2 linked regions of the Homo sapiens genome follow. The protein of the gene in region 2 purifies or fractionates together with the protein of the main gene of each other region. This does not show direct contact. Each region holds a gene or a part of one and is shown on either strand. Other genes may lie near its edges. The genes, in order: PAIP1 and CSDE1.

What was found.
Region 1: the proteins of CSDE1 (region 2) and PAIP1 purify together in Homo sapiens (affinity purification with western blotting; 2 studies listed by BioGRID and IntAct, with this or other methods). This does not show direct contact.

What each region holds. Positions count from the first base shown.
Region 1 is NC_000005.10:43,543,469-43,554,077, forward strand, and holds part of PAIP1 (polyadenylate-binding protein-interacting protein 1), read right to left. Parts: intron 4,446-10,609; coding exon 4,260-4,445; intron 1-4,259. UniProt on the Homo sapiens protein: Acts as a coactivator in the regulation of translation initiation of poly(A)-containing mRNAs. Its stimulatory activity on translation is mediated via its action on PABPC1. Competes with PAIP2 for binding to PABPC1.
Region 2 is NC_000001.11:114,752,795-114,763,407, reverse strand, and holds the start of CSDE1 (cold shock domain-containing protein E1), read left to right. Parts: upstream 1-5,423; 5' UTR 5,424-5,483; intron 5,484-10,613. UniProt on the Homo sapiens protein: RNA-binding protein involved in translationally coupled mRNA turnover.

The sequences.
Region 1 (10,609 bases), on a different chromosome or scaffold from region 2:
ACCAGTGGGGCTTCTTGGGGCAGGAAAGCACAGACTTTTTAGTGTTTGGCAGTCCAGGACAAGATTCCCTGGCATTTTGCTTCATGACTTTGGACATCAGTAAACCTCCCTGAGCTTCAGTTAGACTTTAAAGAGGTGATTAATGGTAACTGGCACAAGCAACTAACACTTAAACACTCCAAGAATGATTGGGTAAAGGGGAAATGAAAACAGCTAAGCTACTTAAAAACAGAAAAAAAAAAAAGTAAGAAAACACTACACATCAAAGATTGTTGATATAACTGAAGCAGTGTTCAGCAAGTTTAACTTTAATTGCAATTTCTAAAGAATAGTAGAGAACATAGTTTACCATCTAATATTAGGTAAGAAAACACACATTAAAAGGTTAAGAAGTCGGGCACAGTGGCTCATGCCTGTATTCCTAGTACTCTGGAAGGCCAAGGCCAGAGGATCGCTTGAGGCCATGAGTTCAAGACCAGCCTAGTCAACACAGTGTGACCACCATCTCTATAAAAAAATTTTAAAATTAGCTGGGCACGGTAGCATGCACCGTAGTCCCAGCTACTCTGGAGGCTGAGGTGGAAGGATCACTTGAGTGTAGGAGTTCAAGGCTGCAGTGAGCTGTGGTCACGCCACTGCACTCTAGTCTGGGTGACAAAACAAAGCCCCCATCTTTTTAAAAAAAAAAAAAAAAAAAAAAAAAAAGCTAAGGGACTTGGCCACAAATGTAATTGAACATAGAATCTAGATCTAACAAATGTCCTGCTACCCCTCTGACTCTATATGTTGGGTCTACTTACTAACTTTTATTTCTAATTATTTCCTTGCTCACATGGGGCCAGTATATGTCACATTAAGGGAGAAAGAGTGATTTCTCCTGACATCATGTATGTTTAGCTGGTACCCAAGACTTGGTTCACCCTTACATTTTTCCCATTATTGGCACTGCATGTTTTCCTTTAGCTTCTTTTTAGTGTTATAACACGATTTAAAGACAAGTTCTATAAGGCTTGTCATTCAACAGTTTCCTACTTACATCCCGGTTTTACTCCCAAAGACAACCACTTTTGACTTCTTCAGCCAAAAATGTTTTAATCCCCATATCTCCGCACTACGTAATTTTTCAGTTTAGATGTTATTTCTTACTGCAACTTGAGCATCCCTGTCCAAAAATCTAAAATCCTCCAAAAACAGAAAATATGAGTGTCCACATAATGCCAAAAGTGGAAAATTCCACACCTGACCTCATGTGACAGGTCAGTCAAAACACAGGTGTACAACACATAATTTATTCAGCATCCCCAAAGGAAAAAAGACCCTGTCAACCCCCTTCAGCTGTAATATACTTAGGTACCCTCCCTGAGGTGTCTCATTATATACTGGATATGCTAAATCTGAAAAAATCCATCTGAAATGCTTGAAATCTCAAGCATTTCAGATACGGGATACTCAACTTACAGTTTCCCATCATGGAAGATGAGCTTTTAGCTTTCACCCTGCTTAATTTCACCCCACTCTACTATTTCCTCCTATCACAGTATGGTTATGATTTTATTCATTTGCTGTGTTTTCATTTATAGCTGAACCATGTATTACACTGCTTTTACTTTTGCACAACTTTGTCTTCCCTAGATTCAGTTTTTACTACACTTTTATATTCTTCTCATTGATTTATCCCTAAACTCACTACTCTGTAAATTTCTTCTTATGTCTTACAGCATGTGTGCTCATCTTATTACGGAAGTCTTTCCTGGAGCCTTCTGACCTAGTCCAGTGAAGCCTGGCTGCTTCAGACCTACTATGCATGCTGCTATTGTTTTGAGATCTCCTTTGAACCATCATCTGGACAGTTCACTTAGTCTCTCCTGTAGAGTTCCTTTTCCTGGTTCCCATGTCTTCATCCGTGGCATAACTCCTCTTTTTGACAGAGTACGTCCTTTGTTAATTTCATAAGAAGGGTTACAACAAAATTTCAAACCGGCTGTTCAGTGTAAAAAGATCTGGATGGTCTAACTTTTTAGATTCTCAAGCAATCCTTTTAGCCTCATTCCATCCTTATTTTAGAACCTTTTAGGTTTTGCACTGTAAGTCATGGTGATTCTCAGCTTTACCACCACTGGCTTGGAATTCAACGTTAGATCTGCCAAATCAGGTACCACTCACCCACCTGCTTTCTAGTCTTCAAAACTAGTGCTTTTCTTTTCCTCTTCTCTGTCCCTATGAGCTTCCGCCTTTTAAAAATCCCCATAGCATCATTTTAGTGGTGTTTGGGAGATATCAGAGTTGAATGTGTATTTAATCTGTCATTTTTTTTTTTTTTGATTCAGAGTTTCGCTCGTTGCCCAAGCTGGAGTGCAGTGGCGCAATCTCGGCTCACTGCAACCTCCGCCTCCCGGGTTCAAGCGATTCTCCTGCCTCAGCCTCCCGAGTAGCTGGGATCACAGGCATGCACCACCAAGCCCAGCTAATTTTGTATTTTTTTTTAGTAGAGACAGGGTTTCTCCATGTTGGTCAGGCTGGTCTTGAACTCCTGACCTCAGGTGATCCACCCGCCTCGGCCTCCCAAAGTGCTGGGATTACAGACATGAGCCACTGCGCCTGGCCTAATCTGTCATCTTTTGTAATACTTCCTCGTTTGTTAGTTGCTATGAGTAAATTTCCATAAATTACCTCAATGAAACTTAGCAGCTATTGATAAACCTATGCATCATTGATCATAGAATATTAAAACATTAAACATACTGACTACATATTTGACAATCAGAGAAATAGTTGACGCTTATCAGGTTACTGACCCTTTGTCCAGCCCTGAATAAGTATAATTACGCAGCCTACTGAATAACTGAAACTAAATAGTGGAGGAAGCCAGAAAGGCAACAAGAAATAAATACATTTGTTTCATTTTCTTATCTCATATTCCTTTTCAATCCATTTATCAGCAGAAAGCAGAAATGAGGACAAACAGTGCAGTTCTGTCTTCCTAACATCTCAGGTACTTCCTCAAAACTGACAGTTGGCTAGGTAATCTTGGGGTCCAGTAACCATCCAGAATAACTTGGAAAAGCAGCCAAATGAAACATTAGGATAGAAAATAATCATTAATTTGCATTATAATCTCCCTTCCATATATTCCAAATTTGAGTTGCTCTTGTAACAGTGACTTAAAGAACCTAAAGTTTACATTTCTGATCATGGCCCATTTTTTTTGACCAGTCTCACACTGACTAAGAAATTTTGTGTTAAGCCAGTGTTGTCTACTGTATTTTTCACTTTTAAAATAGCATTAATGAGGCCAGGTGCAGCGGCTCATGTCTGTAAAATCCCAGCATTTTGGGAGACCAAGGCAAGCAGATCACTTGCGGTCAGGAGTTCGAGACCAGCCCGGTCAACACGGTGGAACCCTGTCTCTATCAAAAATACAAAAATTAGCTGGGCATGGTGGTGCACACCTGTAATCTCAGCTACCTGGGAGACTGACGCAGGAGAATCGCTTGAACCCGGGAGACGGAGGTCGCAGGGAGCTGAGACTGCGCCACTGCACTCCAGCCTGGGAGACAGGGCAAGACTCCATATCAAAAAAAAAAAAAAAAAAAAAAAAAAAGCGTTAATATGTTAATGACCAATATGCTGGGATAAAAACTAAATGTTGTATAATGAAACAATTTCAACTGACTAAATTAGACTTTCAAGGAATTAAGATGAAATCCTTAAATTTTAAAAGAAAGCAAAGGCAAGTAGAAATGCTAAGACAAGACATTTTATGGTTTGGCTTTCTTTTTTTTAAAGACCTACTTATGAGGCAAGCAAATTCTCTCAATTTTTTTCCTCCCCTACTCTAATACTACTATTCAATTCAACACATAGGGGAAAAGAATTGCAGTCTTTTCTGGTACTGCTAATTTCAGAGCCTGCAAAACAAGGGGCAGGGTTTTGGTGGGGGTGACACTTATGTAGCCTTCGTTTTCAGTGCCCATATCACCTTCTATACTATACTGCTTGTATAGAGCTTTGGCTAAACAGGTGAATATTACCTATATTGAATCTTGACTACACATGTGAACTTGCAATCCTGTCTGGCTCTACCCTTGGATCCCTAACTATAGGAGTTTTATACAAGACAGACTTAGAACTCCCGGAAACTATAAAGAGTAAGTGTGGAGGCAGGTGATCATGAATCTGGTCTCCCTCAAGGAGTAGCCACTATCCTTGGGCTTCAAGGAAGCTATCTGAAGGTCACTGCATGCTATAAGCCAACATACCTGTTGATAGATGAGTTCCACAAGTTCTTGCAAAGCATCATCTGTTGTAACACAACCATTCAGGGTCTCTGCAAACTGTTCAATTTCAGTTTCAAAACTGCCAGGCTGCTCTGTAAGATGATTCAAAAAATCCTGAACATATTCTGATAGAGTAGGATAATCCTCACAACCATCCTCATAGGATTCCTACGGATCAAAAATGAAAAAACAATTTTAATCTATGCAACTGGCTAAAACACACAAGGTGGTATGTCTCTAGCACAAATGCTTTTTTAAAGATCCCTCACATGATAAAAATTTATGTTCATCAATAAAATTGTCAATTGAGCTATTTTTCTTCCTTGCCTAAAAGCTGAAGTGTTATAATTAACAGCAGAAAGGTTCTGTTCAGCTAAACAGGGAATTGTCTTCTCATTCTGGGTCAACTTCTAAGATGGCTGAGGAATAAAGTTTAAACCAATATTTCACTACAATGCCAATATAAAAATTAAGAATCTGATCCACTTACGAATGAAATAAGATCTAGGATTTGCTTCAAAGTGGGAGGGGAAGTATGGACTAGGGATATAAAAACAAGAACGGCCACATGTAGCTTACTGTTGAGGCCATGAGGATTCATTATACCATTCTCTGTATTTCTGCAAATGTTGACAACTTTTTTATTGGGGAAAAAAAAAACAAAAACAAAAACCTAATAAGGTTTATCATCTGTTAATCCCCAAGGGCAAAGAAATGCATAAAGCTGCTCGAGTAACTAAAATTTCATCACGGTATAAATGGAAGGAGACCTTTTGGCTGCTACATCCAGGTTGCTAACACAACCTTGATAGCAGCAGTAGTTTCCAGCTAATGTTGTTTCCACCACTGTCACCTTTGGCAGTTTCCAACCTTTTCATTAATGGCAGAAGGCTGAGTGGGCGAGTTTTACAAAAGATAATAGACTTGAGCAACAACTTTCACATCTCAATGCCTGGAATACCACCCGAAGCGCTTTAAAGTTTACCAAACAGTTAAAATCTAATAATAACTACACTGCTTGTATGAAATTTAACCTTCTCCAAACAGAGTAAATGAAAAGCCACATAAAAAAGTTATGACTACAAAACAGAAGCATTTTGTGAAGGGGTTAAGTTCTAAAGTCAGTGAGTGCATAGAAGAAAAAAAAAGTCATACATGGTCAAAACACCCTTAGAAATGCTCCATGTTGGAGAAAGACAGTCTTTTTTTTTCTTTGAGACAGTCTTGTTCTGTCGCCCAGGCTGGAGTGCAGTGGTGCAATCTTGGCTCACTGCAACCTCCGCCTCCCGGGTTCAAGCTATTCCTGTACCTCAGCCTCTCAAGTAGCTGGGATTACAGGCATGCACCACCATGCCTGGCTAATTTTTGTATTTTTAGTAGAGACAGGGTTTCACCATGTTGGCCAGGCTGGTCTCAAACTCTGACTTCAGGTGATTCCCCCACCTTGGCCTCCCAAAGTGCTGGGATTACAGGCCACTGCGCCTGGCCCAGGACACAGTCTTAGGAGAAAGACCAACATTGCCAATTGTCCACTTGTCCCTTTACTGTTGGTGCTTGATATGGTTTGGCTGTGTCCCCACCTAAATCTCAACTTGAATTGTATCTCCCAGAATTCCCATGTGTTGTGGGAGGGACCCAGGAGGGAGGTAACTGAATCAATGGGGCCAGTCTTTCCGGTGCTATTCTTGTCATAGTGAATACGTCTCACGAGATCTGATGGGTTTATCAGGGGTTTCCGCTTTTGCTTCTTCCTCATTTTTCTCTTGCTGCGGCCACGTAAGATGTGCCTTTCACCTCCCGCCATGATTCTGAGGCTTTCCCAGCCTTGTGGAACTGTAAGTCCAATTAAATCTCTTTTTCTTCCCAGTCTCGGGTATGTCTTTGTCAGCAGCATGAAAATGGACCACTATAGTGCTACCACTTCAAATAACCATCATTTGGAGGTCATGTTTTACACTTTTTATTTTATCTTTATTTTTTATTTTTATTTTTGAGATGGAGTCTCGCTCTGTCACCCAGGCTGGAGTACAGTGGCAAGATCTTGGCTCACTGCAACCTCTGCCTCCCAGGTTCAAGCAATTCTCCTGCCTCAGCCTCCCAGAGTAGCTGGGACTACAGGCATGTACCACCAGGCCCAGCTAATTTTTTTTGTATTTTTAGAGGAGATGGGGTTTCACCATGTTGATCAGGATGGTCTCAAACTCCTGACCTCAAATGATCCACCCAACTCGGCCTCCCAAAGCGCTGGGATTACAGGCGAGAGCCACCATGCCCGGCCTATGTATCTTCAGAGACTGAAGTGATACTTAGCAAAAGTTGCATGTACTATGAGAGGCAGTCAGGAAGTAAAACCAGCTGCAGAAATAGCAGATTCATGTGCCTTTTTCATTCACATATAGTGTTCATTGAATAGAAGGATAAACTCTAATACATTAGATTTTTGTCACGCATTTGAATTCAAGTTAAACATTCTACTATAATAGGAGGTATTAATGTTGATGCATTTATTTACTAATCATAAATATTATCACTGTGACTCTGAGGATTAAGTGAATTAATCAAATTCACCTAGATTGGTGAAGAGCACATAGTAAAGCACAGAATGTTCAACAAATGAATTACATTTTAAATTTCTAGGAGAATACTGAGTCATATTCCAAATGCAACAGCCATGTATTCATACATAAAGGGACTAAAGTATAAAAAGCATCCAAAATGAATGATAAAAAGCTGTATTTCTTGGCACCTAGGATGGTACTCCAGTTAATAAGCTAATAGCCACCAGCTGCATATATGATATGTGATAGACACCATAAGGGCTTTGCCTGCATCTTGTTTAACCTAGAACATTTTGAGGTAAGCATCACTATCCTCCCTGCATAGAAGAAACAGGCACAGAGTAGTTAAGTCACTTTGGTTATTCATTCAAAATGGTGTGGCTGCTGAGTACCTACTAAGTGCCAAAGACTGTCTTAGGGGATGGGATACTGCCATGACATGAATATCTGCCATGAATAAAGCAGACAAGGCTCTCCTCTCATGGAGCTCATACCCCATGATGGAAGACACATTCAGAAGTTGAAATATACTACAAAAAAAAAAAAAAAAAAAAAAGCAAAAAGCCAAGTAGAGATTCTTAGAGTTAATATATAAACTAAGAAAGAAAAAAAGATCCAGCCATACAAATATCTAAGGAAAGATATTCTCTTTCTATGGGCACAAGAAGCACACAGGCCCCAAGGAGGCCTAATAACTTTGAAAAAGACAATAACTAGAATACAGAAACTGAGGATGGGTGGTAACTAATGAGGTCAATGAGGCAGATAAGGAGATCTTAGAGGGCTTTGGGGGCCAAATTAAGGAAACTGGCTCTTAAGGAAGTAGGAAAAACAGGATGGGGGAAAGAGGGTTTGAACAAGGAAGGACCATGCACCAACTTAAGTGACTGTGCATGGTCACAAAACTGATTAGAAGAACTGAGCGCAGAACAAAGCCTATATTTTTAACCTCTCTGTGAAACTCAAAATAAAGGACAAAAGCTTAAAACCCAATTTTATGTACAAAGATGTTCATTGCCAAAAAATCCACGTAACAATCCATTAACAAGGAATTGGTTAAATACATTATCATATATCTGTATAATGGAATATTATAGCCATTTAAGAAAACAAGAGACAACAGTACTTACCTCTAGAGTGAGAAAATGTTCCCATTATAAATATTGACATTATAAAGTTGTGAAAGCAGTTAGGCATAATTGTACACATTCATATACTTAATGTTAACTACATACATGCGTGAATTTTATAACTAAAAACTAGTCTTAAGTTTTTGATATACAGTTACTAGTTTTACAGACTTGTAGTATCCTACCACTATTAATGACAAGGAACAGCAGAAAGGCAAAGGTACGGGTCCCAGCTGAAAGTACTAATTTCCTGTTTCCATCAAATGTCATTCTTCGTGGCAAAAATGCTGCTTAGAGCGCTGATTTGCAATCTTTTTTTTTTTTTTTTTAAAGTCAACAGAACTCTCTTTTAAGAAAATGTAAAATCTGATCAGTAAAAGAAGAAAGTAGAACTGCTCTGAATATAGCAGAACAGAGGATCCAGAGCCTGCCATTTTAAGCAAAAAAAGGAGGCATAGAGTATTTGGAACAGACAGGCACTCCAACGTGTTTGAATCAAAGCCTGCATTACTTCTCTAGCACCAGATTTTTTAAAGCCACAAATTTCTTCAGTCTTCAATGTGGAGTCAAATGGCTTCCAAACAGAGATATTTTCAAGTTTTATTTTTCTTAGAATTCTATGGGAGATTGGGAGAAATAGAAAATGTACTTTTTCATGGTAGGTACTCTATATACATTGTCAAGAGATGAGAACCTATTACAGAACCGTGGGAATAAAAGAAAACTGATCAGACACTACAGAGAGTGAATATAGTCACGACTACTTTAGCTAGCTGGATTGAATTAAGGCAAGGGTGTGCAGGAGAGGTGAGTCAATATGCCACCAAGTTCTTAGTGTAAGCAGCTAGTTAGAAGAGATTCGCATGAGATAAATAATTCTTACACTGTGTATAGATTTTATACTTGCATTTGAATGTGAGGTCCTCAAGAAGTGGTCAAATAAATGAAAATGTATGCCTAGAGTTCACTAGAGTTCAAAGGAATAATTAGATGTCAGGGTTATTAGCACATAAATAAGTGATAGATTCTATGGAATAGGCGGGATTAGCAAAGGAGGTAATAAAATGGAAGAAAGAACGTCACCAACTGTCATCTGAGGGGAAAAGGAATGATCTGCAAGTTGGGAGGATAAAGTACTGCCACAGAAGCCAAAGAGGTAGGGGAGAAGAGATGCTCATAACAACAAATGCTACAGAATAAATTCATAGGTTGAAATCTGGAAGAGAATTATCATTGCAGAGTCTCGGGAGTGAAGGAGATTATACTCAGAGAGAAAAAAGAACAAAACTAGTACCTCAAATACTTAGTTCTTAAAACAATGGGAGGGAGCTTCTGATAGACTAAAAAGGTACCTTTGCACCTAGCACAGGACCTGGCACATGGGGATTTATAAACTGAATAGATCCTACAGTGCTCAAAGTTTTAAAATGAGATTTAGGAAGATAAATTTAAAAATCGGAAGAACATCAGTCACAAAAATAGTATCAATACAATTAGGGAGATCAGACTGCAGAGGTCTGAACAGTGAGAGACAGTGAATAATTTTACCTATTGGAGAATGATACTACTGCAAGGCAGAACAAAAACTGGGAAGTAACTTGAAGAGGGATTCTCTTAGAAAAAAAGCTCGTTTTTTTGCAGGGGAGGAAGGGGACTTCTGTCTCTTCATCAATGCTTTATGAATTCCTATGTTAAATTTTTGGCTCTGGTAAGTGAACTGTGACAAATATTCAAGGCATAATGGTTTGTCTGAGAAGAAATAATGGCCAGGGATAAATGGATATAGCAACTCACTGGTAAGAAGACATGGAAAGTAGGAAATTCTAGCAGCAGGATTAGAGGAAGAACTGAAGATAAAAGGGCTTGGTGCCTTGAAAGAGTTAAGAAAGCACAGCAGAAGACTACCATAAAGGCTGTTAGAAAAAGGATACCAGGAAATAGATTTTCATGTGTAGAACAAAAGCAGATTCAATAAATGTCTGCAAACTGAGCCAGGAGACTACTAGAATAGAGACTCCATGAAGACAGGAATTTCTGTCCATTTTGTTTGTTGCTGTATCACCGGTGCTTGACTCATGATAAGTACTTGACTATTTGTTGAATGAGTGAATGTAGCTAACTTTGGATTATGGCTACTAAAAGGAAATGTTTCCTTTGCAACAAGAGCTTATCCTAAGAGTCGGGGGAAAAAAGGATCCTGCTGTTCTATGACTAATTGGATTGAGAAAAACTCTCTTAGCCTTAACTATGGGTAAAGATTAGGGTAAACCAGTAAGGCTAGAGAATATACCAGAACAGGGGTAGTAAGCCTGAATGCCTGTAGAATTCAGGTAGATTACAAATGAATGAAATAAGCCAGAAAGCAAATTAGAGCTCACAGACTCCATCTAAAGAGAATGCCTCTACTCAGCTCCAACCAATTTTTGCTGTATCAAAATGCCAGTCCACTAAGGCCAGATTTTATGACAAACCAGAACATTCAAGTTTCTAATATCTAATTTAGGTATTGGTTAATTAAATAAAACAACTTAAAGAAAAAACAAACCCATTCAGGGCTAGAGAAGACACCTGCAGGCCACACAGGTTTCCAGGTGCCAGGCTGCAATCTGTTTTGGTAAATTGAGCACAGGAGGTGCTGATCTAT
Region 2 (10,613 bases):
GTCCATATTATTATCGGCATTTTAGTTCCAAACTTTCCCACATCTTCCTGTCTTCTGAGTCCCCAATTCTCTAGGAATTTCCAAACCTTCCCACATTTTCTTCTTCTGAGCCCTCAAAACTGTTCCAGACTCTACCTGTTACCAGTTCCAAAGTCGCTTTCACATTTTCGGGTATCCTTATAGCAGTGACCCACTAACTCCTGGTACCAATTTGTTGTGTTAATTCATTCTCATACTGCTATAAGGACACACCCAAGACTGGGTAATTTATAAAGGAAAGAAGTTAAACTGACTCACAGTTCAGCTTGGCTGGGAAGGCCTCAGGGAACTTATGATCATGGTGGAAGGGGAAGCAAACATATCCTTCTTCACTTGGTGGCAGGAAGGAGAATGAGTGCTGAGCAAAGGGGGGAAAGCCCCTTATAAAACCATCAGATCTTATGGGAACTCACTATCACAAGAAAAGGAGCATGAGGGTAACTGCCCACATGATTCAATTACCTCCCATTGGATCCCTCCCATGACATGTGGGGATTATTCGAACTACAATTCAAGATGAGATTCAGGAGAGGACACAACCAAACCATATCAATAATGAAAATGGCTACATATTTTCTTCTAGAGCTTTAGGGTTATTTTATTTATTTATTTATTTTTAAATTATACTTTAAGTTCTAGGGTACATGTGCACAACGCGCAGGTTTGTCACATATGTATACATGTCCCATGTTGGTGTCCTGCACCCATTAATTCGTCATTTACACTAGGTATATCTCCTAATGCTATCCTTCCCCCCCTCCCCCATCCCACGACAGGCCCTGGTGTGTCATGTTCCCCTTTCTGTGTCCAACTGTTCTCATTGTTCAATTCCCACCTATGAGTGAGAACATGCGGTGTTTGGTTTTTTGTCCTTGCGATAGTTTGCTGAGAATGATGGTTTCCAGCTTCATCCATGTCCCTACAAAGGACATTAACTCATCTTTTTTTATGGCTGCATAGTATTCCATGGTGTATATGTGCCACATTTTCTTAATCCAGTCTATCATTGATGGACATCTGGACTGGTTCCAAGTCTTTGCTATTGTGAATAGTGCTGCAATAAACATATGTGTGCATGTGTCTTTATAGCAATGGCTACATATTTTCTTATTAGTAATCCATAAATGATGACCTACCATACAATCACTACTGCCTTGGATTCAATAAAATAAGTGAAATTTACTCATTCAATGAATATTGTTTAAGTATTTACTGTATACGTAAGTCACTGTGCCAGGTTTTGGGGATACAATGATGAACTAGAGAATTGAAGCTTATGCTGTAGTTCAGAGGGATGAGCAATAAACAAATGGAAACTGATAGTTTAGTGGGTACTTTTACTTTAGAAAAGGCCTTTGTAAAGTGGTTAACATTTGACCTGAAATCTGAATGATGAGAAAGTGCCCAAAGATTTGGGCTAGAACATTCCAGGCAGAGACAACAGTAAATTCATGGGCCTTGAAGTAGGAACAAACTTACAATATAGGAAGAACCAGTTAACCAGGGGTTAGAGAATTTGGTGGGGACTATATCATTCAGGGCCTTGAAGAGCACAGTAAAAGAGTTTGGATTTATGTTAAATACAATTGGATTTCATCAGGATTCAGTTTAAGTTAAATTATAAATATTCTGTTGCTCTACCCTTCCCTCTATTAACTGACTCCCAGAGCTACAATGTTAGATGGTTACTTTTGGTGCAGCATTTTAGCATGTCCACATAATTATCCTATTAAGTGCAATTTTAACATTTTAAAGGGAAGCATTATATAAAGCTTTTGCATTCTTATTTAAATTCTAATATTTTATTACATTAGTGGTATTATGTTATTCTTATTTATATAATGCCCTTTAACTGTTTAGAGGCTGGTTAAAGAATAAAAAGTTTTGGGTTGTAGGCCTATAGGACCAAATCTTAATTATTTACATTAATTCTTATGGAAATAATTCTTCTTTATGAATGTTTTTGCTCTAGAAGTATTATTTCTGTTCTGAAACCTTGGATGTGGACCTCTTTACCATGCACTATTATCATAATTTTATCTTATTTAATGAAATATTTTTTAAGACCTTGTCTCATTCTGTTGCCCAGGCTGAAGTGCAATAGCACGATTATGGCTCACTGCAGCCATGACCTCCCAGGCTTAAGCAGTCTTCCCATCTCAGCCTGCTGAGTAGCTGGGACCACACATGCATCACCATGCCTGGCTAATTTTCAATTTTTTTGTAAAGACGGGGTTTCGCTACATTGCCCAGTCTGGTCCGGAACTCCTGAGCTCAAGCGATCCTCCCACCTTGGCTTCTAAAGTCTGGGATTACAGTTGTGAGCCACCGTGCCCAGCCTATCATAATTTTATAAAAGAAGATCCTCTTTAGTTTCCCTAAACAGGGAGGACATGTCAGAATAAAAACAACTCTTAAAATCTGGAATAAATTTAGCCTTATTTAATTTTTTTAAAAAAGCTCTATATTGACCTAATTTTTCTCATTCGACAGAGAAATGACAAAAATCTCACCCACCGCTGCTCAAGAAAACCTTACAAACTGTAAGAAATGCTTACTTTTGATTCTAAAGTAGACTTCAGAGATAATGTACTTATTGATGATTGTAGAGGGAAAAAAAGCACACAATCATTATCAATTTCATTGTCTAAGTTTTTCAGAGTAGAAAACTAAATATGATGAATAACTAAAAATAATTTCTCAAATTTTTTTCTGATGGTTCCTTAACAGACTATCTTCCCAAAATCCATGTCACCCTGTTGCATAGGAGATGGTTTTCCAAAGTGATTTAACAAGTTTCTGATTTAATTTAAAAAAAAACATAAAAAGATAACCACATTTTTTCAGTTTTTGATTTGACTTCAAAATTCATCTGAAAAAAATCATTATGTAGTGATCTAATAATGAAACCTACTTCTGTTTGTGGGTTTTACTTGTAGAAACAGTAAATCATTTTAACTTGTGATTTATATCAAATTGTTCCACCTGTTACTTTCTTTAATGCATTAGAAGCTAAAATGTATATTTCTCGGTTTATACAGACTGCATTTTGTGTTAAATGTAAATTGATATTAATTTTGGAACAAGGAGGAATTTAAAGGAATTTAAAGACAATTGGGATATATTCAGAATGATGATGATGAAATGATTATATAATTAAAGAAGGTTTTCAGAAGCTATGTGTAATGGTAGAAATCAAGGCTTTATCCTTCCTTATTAATAGTAATTGTATTGATATAATTTAGTAAGACTTTTTTTTTTTTACATTTCCTATTGCTGTGATATTTGAGAATGTATACTAAAAGTAGAATTACCTAATTACCTAATTAGTTTCACATGACCTCATATCTAGCGCAAGAGCCTGGTACAGTTTCTCTATAACATTAGATTAGAATACACAGACCAGCTGTATTGCAGGAAGGGGAGATCTCGATTTAAGAACTGGGTGAATTAAACAAAACAGCTGGTTTGAAATATTTACATTCTGGGCCAGGCGTGGTGGCTCATGCCTGCAATCCCAGCACTTTGGTAGGCCGAGGTGGGCGGATCACCTGAGGTAAGGAGTTGGAGACCAGCCTGACCAACATGGAGAAACTCTGTCTCTACTAAAAATACAAAATTAGGTCGGGTGCGGTGGCTCATGCCTGTAATCCCAGCACTTTGGGAGGCTGAGGCGGGTGGATCACGACATCTGGAGTTCGAGACCAGCCTGGCCAACATGGTGAAACCCTGTCTCTACCAAAAATACAAAAATTAGCCGGGTGTGGTGGTGCACGCCTGTAATCCCACCTACTCAGGAGGCTGAGGCAGGAGAATTGCTTGAACCCGGGAGGCGGAGGTTGCAGTGAGCTGAGATCATGCCATTGCACTCCAGCCTAGGCAACACGAGTGAACTCCATCTGAAAAAAAAAAAAATTTACATTCTGTAGTTTCCCAGAAATATATTCCAATTTCTAACAACTTATCATACTGTTGTCCAGTGCTATTTATTCAACAAGCTTTTGAGAGTTGTTGAGAGCGGGCACTGTCAACAACCAGGGATGCAAAGATGAATTTCATAAGCTCTGTGCTAGAGTATTACTACCTAGTAAAAACTAATAATTACAATAGAGTGAGCTATGAAAGCATTGAAAATGAAGCAAATATTTGTGCTTAGGAAAGCGTGGGAAGGCATCAAAGAGAGCAAAAAGGCAGTTTTGAGGTGTTATACATGGGACTGGACACCAGCAACAAAGGTGGTGAGGAAATTTTTGAACAGAAATGGGACACGGCCTCCTCTTAGAATTCAAGAGGTTGAATTGAAGGTTGTCTTTCCTTCATTGCACTTATTCCAATGTGTATGTTTAGATTTGTTTTTGTGATCATCAATGATGCTAGACTAAAAGTTCCTTGAGGACAAGTCTATATCCGATTTTCTTTACAACTGTATACTTCCCAGTGGTTACACATACAACATGTCAAATAAATGTGTTGTAAGCAAAAAGTGGGTAGGAGAGTTCTCAGAAGACTGGCTGCTCATTATTTATCCAATACTGTCAAGTGAGAGAGCCAGTGAATCTGTGAAAACAGAAGCATTGAATCTGGGAAAAGCATTCCTCTCACCAGAGGAGCATGCTCTACTGTCTGGCAGGGGATAATCCATTGAACTTCCTGTGGTCATAATTACCCATTTTTCTCCTTCCTTCTTCCCCCATTGGATGAATCATCTCTTTGCTCTTATTTCAACCTTTTAATTACTGATCCACCCTCTTTGATTACCTGACACAACAGGAATATCTTTCGTAACTTGAAAGGTCAGTTGACTGAATTTGTTTCATTTTGTTTAGTGATTATGCAGCCTTGCTCACTCTTGTGCATCTGTTGCAATGTTTTTCGTGGAAAACAAAGGTCTCATTTAGATTTCTAAATTACCTTGCTACAAAGCTGACTCTATACTAATGAAATTCCTCTAAAACAGTAGACGTAAGAAAGAATGCTTGCACTATAAGAAGAAACGAGTGTGAGGTCCTTCCGGATTTTTGCTGGGAAAAGATAAATCATTTTTTATGACTCCTGAATATGCCATCAGAATTGTTGGCCTTCAAGGTTTACCCCATTATTGTGGGCTAAAACGTATTCAAACGCTCGAAGACTAGAGACGCCTAAAGCCACCCGCCACCCCTAGTGTCCAGGAGGAGTCAGTAAACACCGAGATTGCTTCCCGCAGCACACCCAAGAAGGAATGTAATGTAATGCAGCCACCATGTTGGTTGTGGTTAAGTGCAGCAAACTGCTTGGCGTCACTTAGCCCTGCTGCGCAAGCGTGTTGAGAGTACGCTTCACTCCGCCCCTTCTCGTGCACGCGCCCGGAGCCCGCAACTCTCGCGAGAGAAGCGAGATTTATTCCTACGTACCGGGCCGTGCTGCTTATGGCGGCGCTGGAGAGGGGGCGCTGAGCTGTTGGGGTGAGTACGACCTCAGGGTCCAACTGGGGGTAGCAGAAACCCAGGGGAAGGGCTGAGAATAAGACCAAGGCTAACGAGAAGCCTTCTGAGTCAAGGTGGGCACTCGTAGAGCTCTAGGTGGGGAAGAATGCACCCCGATTCCCTGCCCTGGGCTTTTTCATACGTCTCCCGTTCAACTGCCTGGGCCTCATGTCAGGTCGCAGAGCTGAAACGAGGAGTTGAGGCCAGCCGGCTGCGCGTGGTGGTAGTGGTGGTGGTGACTAAAGTGGGGGGAGGGAGCGAAAATGGAGGCTCCGACAGCAGCCAAGATGGAGGCAGAGGGTGCGGGGCTCGGGCGCGGAGGCTGCTGGGATCTGTAGTCTGGCTGCTTCCCCATCTGCGGCTTGTCTGGGGAAACGGGAACTACATGTCCCGGCGGGCGGGGCGAGGGGGTGGTGGCGCGGTCCTTTGTGTGAGGTTGGAAGAGCCTGAGACCGAGAAGAGGGGCCTACTTTGACTCTGGACCCTGTAGTTTCCTGGCCGTTACCTGCTTGGGAATCTGACTACCAGTACCAGAGCGCAGTGCGGCAGTGGCGCCTTCTTTGTGTATAGACTGAGACCCTGCTCCATCTAGATATCTTAGGGGAAGTGTTTAAAGACACCTTTCCCCAGCCACATCTGGCACAGTAGTGTGGCGGAATTGACATCGTTACTCCAGTCACCTAGAGCAGGGTCTCAGCACCCAACCTTCCCCTCATTGTCTCCCCTTCGGCGTCTTGAGAAAGGGAACCAGTCCCTAATCTTTTAGGCACGTGGCTCCCACCCCTCTATCTTGGGGAATGGGCGTGCGCCCTGAAAGCTCAGTAGTGTCCTCCCTTCCACCTCCTGTAGTTCTCATGGTGCCAGCGCCTGGCCCACCCACATTGTGCAATGAACGGCCTGGCTTCGTCATTCTATGTAGAATGTTTTAGAGTTCCCCCGTCGGAGACAGCTTCAAATTTTTGCCATGCTATTTTATCAATACGAAATCTTAGTGCCAAGGTTCTTTTGCTTTAAGGTTTTCCCTTAGAAACACCCAGATGGCGGCCGTCTTGCTTAACTCACAGGTGAAGCAGAGAACGCTCCCTGAAACAGGCTTGAATCTGCAAAGAATATCTGAACGTTGTTGGGCAAGTTAATTTTCGTGTTTTGCACCTTAAATGAGTAAAAGAATATGGCGCTCTTTAAACAGTTGGGAGACAGGGCGGAGAGGGAGAATGCTCAAAGGCACTGTGGTAGTTAAATCTTTTTGAGAGGCTTAAATTTTCATCAGGCTGGTATGAACTGGCAGTTCTCAGCCACTGCTACTAACCTACTTTTTTAGAATGTAGGTTTCAAATTATAGCCCACAGATATAAGCTACTCTATACTAAAATGCTGAGTAATTTTCATTTTGAGTAACTAAAGGCAAACATTCTTGATATTGCATTGAGGAGCACTATAATACATACCTTGGTTTTCTTTTGGTACTAACCAATAATGGATATCCTTGGTGTGGGTAAGGAGGGGCTTTATATACTTCAGTAGGGATATACCTGAGTCATAAAACTTAGATAAATATTTGGCCTTCTTTTTGTTTCGTTTTAGCCCTGGGACTAAAATAAAAGAGAAGGTAATAGTTTGGTTTTGCAGCTGTTCTGGATGTTTACCATCGAGATGATTATTTATAGCAGCTGAGTTGAAAACTAAAGTATTTGAGGCACAGAAGATAGGTTTTCTTTTTTTGTAAGTACTGACTTAAGTGTGACCTTTAGCGAGTGTGGGTGAAAATCTGGTAAAGTCCTAGCAAATCAAAATTGAAAGCGTGAAAGCTGACGTGCAGTCTGGCTTTACCCTCTACCCTTATTTTCCCTTCTCCCCACCTGAAGACACATCGTGTAGGGCCATCGATTTTTGTTTTAAACAAACAAAATGCTAAAATATCAAATTATGCTGGAGCATTCATAACATGAAATTTAGTGTTCCAGTGTTTTTCATTGTACAGTTCAGTGGCACTAAGTCTATTGAAACTGTTGTGAGAGCCATACTTTCGACAAGGTAGTTAAAACATGGAAATTTTGGAACGATGTTCTTTTGGACAGATTTTTGAGGAGTTGAATTTCAGGACTGTATTGCAAAATGAGATAAAAATCTTGATCTTGTTAAGTAAACACAAAGAATTGATGTGCCTTCTTCTTAGCTTTGTCCTTGCAGAAAACAGAAGAGGAAGCACTTTGAGATCTATTTTGTAAGCTTTAATAGCTAGACTGTTGTAAGTGGTGAAACTACTATGGTGAGAGTGACTTGCTGTTAAATCCCTTCTGCCCAGTCAGGATTTTAAAAAGTCCTTTGTTTTGATATTAGAATGTTTTCCACTTGCATGTGTGGGTACCTAGTTAAAAACAACACAAAACTTTTTAATATTTTAATGTCCTTTTATGCTGAGGTAAAACAGTGTGTGGCTGAAAATTATCAGTTTCCCCTATGTTGCACATGTAAGCTATCCGTTGATTTGCAGCTACAGCCGGTACATAACCAGTTATTTGCACTTCTTTTTCTCCAATTTATTAACAACAAGCTTCTATGCTAGATACTGCCTACTTTTATTAGTGAAAATCTTTGCTCAAGACCCTTACATTTACTTCCTGTTGCTAATTGGCACAATAGTGCTTTTTTAGACCCCTGCTCAGTTTATACCTACTCTGTGGAACATGGTAGCCGCCAGCCACGTGTGGCTGTTGTGCACTTGAAGTGTGACTAGTTTGAATTGAAATGTGCTGTGATTGTATAATAACATTGGATTTCAAGGAATGTAACAGTGTCAATTTTTTTACATTGATTGCCTGTAGAGAATAACATTTTGGATATAATTGGTTAAATAAGACGTTTAATTAAAATTCCTTCTGTTTCTTTTGACTGTAATATGGTTACTAGAATTATAATTACACTGTATTTCTGTTGGAAACTGCTGGTCTGTGGTGTTTTCTGATGTGTCTAGAATGTTTCTTCAGCATCTTCCCACACTGCCATTTGTCCTGCTTAAAACTATTAGGTTTCTGGGTGTATATATAAGCAGTTAAGTGATAGATAATTTTAAATATCTCAGTAGCTGTTTAGATAATTAATCCAGCACAGTTGTTACTACACAGATACAAAAAGATAGTTGTGTCAGTTTGATTTTTTATTTTTACTCAACAGATGACTTAGGTTGGTTAATTATCTAGAGTTTATCGTTTACCTTAGATCCTAAAGTAAAAATGAATTAAGACCTATTAAGCACTTCAGTTATAAAATGTGGTGCTCAATGAAATGTCAGGCAATAGAGAAACTTTTCAGTCCTATGCTACCTATTTGGGTCTTTGTTTTTTCCTGCCTAAAAGAAGATACTGCCTAAAGGAAGTGGGTTAGGTGAGCAGACTTTTGTAGACTGGCTTAGCCTTTCATTAACTTTTCCCGAAGTGAGTGCTGCACATACTTTCAAAATAATAAACTAGGTAGTGTGATACATTTTAGATGGATTACTTACCACATAAATGTGTTAGTTTAACCTCTTCATTTAGTGCCGACTATGTCATGGCTTATGCTAGGCCTTTGAGGTAAAACAGCCGAGGAAGACATGAAATAAAACAGGTGGTGGCCAGGTGCAGTGGCTCACGCCTGTAATCCCAGCACTTTGGGGGGCTGAGGCAGGTGGGTCACTTGAGGTCAGGAGTTCGAGACCAGCCTGACCAACATGGTGAAACCCCATCTGTGCTAAAAATACAAAAATTAGCCAGCCAGGCCTGGTGGTACACGCCTGTAGTCCCAGCTACTGGGGAGGCTGAGGCAGGAGAATCGCTTGAACCCGGGAGGTGGAGATTGCAGTGATTAAGTAATAATACTATTTCCATGCTGAGCAAAGGGAAAAGGAGTTGATTACTTAGCACACAGTATGATTCTCAGATACACATTTAAATTGTTCCCTAGTGTTTTTATTGGTACCCTATGGTGGGTTTGTGGGGGCGATTGTTTTGAGTCAGCGTCTTACTCTGTCGCCCAGGCAAGAGTGCAGTGGCACAGTCATAGCTCACTGCAGCCTCAAACTCCTGGATTCAAGTGATCCTCCTGCCTCAGCTTCCCGAGTAGCTGGGACTACAGGTGCATGCCACCACACCCAGTGAATTTATTTTTTATTTCTAAAATTTTTTGTAGAGACAGCATCTCACCATGTTGCCCAGGCTGGTCTCAGACAATCCTCCCACCTTGGCCTGCCACAGTGCTGGGGATTACAAGCGAGAGCCACCACCCCAGCCCAATACCCAGTGTTTCATGCAACTTAAGTTTCAAGCTTTTAGGGGGATGGAGGAGATGCACTTGTGTTCCTAGGGTTAAGGCAAAAGAGGTGGTTAGTAGCACCAATTAATGTTAATCCGGGCATGAGTGGATAGCTATTTATATTAAACTGCCTGACCAATACCTTTAAGTTCTTCAGTAAGTGTTAATTTAATTGAAAAACATTTAGTTAACTATAGAAGCTGTGAAGATGTTAATTCGGCCAGTAAATTATTCATGACTGTTGGTGGGTTCGTTTGAGCTTTAATAGCTCCTAATAGACCTCATTAGTGCCTAAGAATGGCCCTGCAGTACTCCAGAGTTTCAGTTCCAGAAATCTCTTTTTTTGTGTTACTGAATCTTGGACTTGACAGTTCTTAATGTGATACGACAACCTGGAATGGGTTAATCCAGTTCAAGTGTTTCAAGATAACTTGTTTTCTCCATGTTGAGTTCTTTGGGTTCATTAATACACCTAAAGCATTAAGATAAAACCAATATACACAGTCTGTATTTTTTAAAGAAGAGATTATTTCTTGATTGGATAATTAAAACTATATAATTAAAGGTGGTATAACTGTTTACACTTGAATTGTGGCATAACTGTTTACACTTGAATTGTGGCGTCCTTTTGCTTATTAAGGATTAACTACCTTTTTCCTTTGGTTGTATATGGCAGCACTGGATTAGGTGCGAAAGGAGGCTGTGATAAAGAAATTTGAGTTTACCTCTCAGAAATTTGAAATAGAATTGGAGGAACAAGATACATAAAAACATGAAGTAAACAAAGTACAGAAATTGCTTGGTATCACTTGCTGCAAA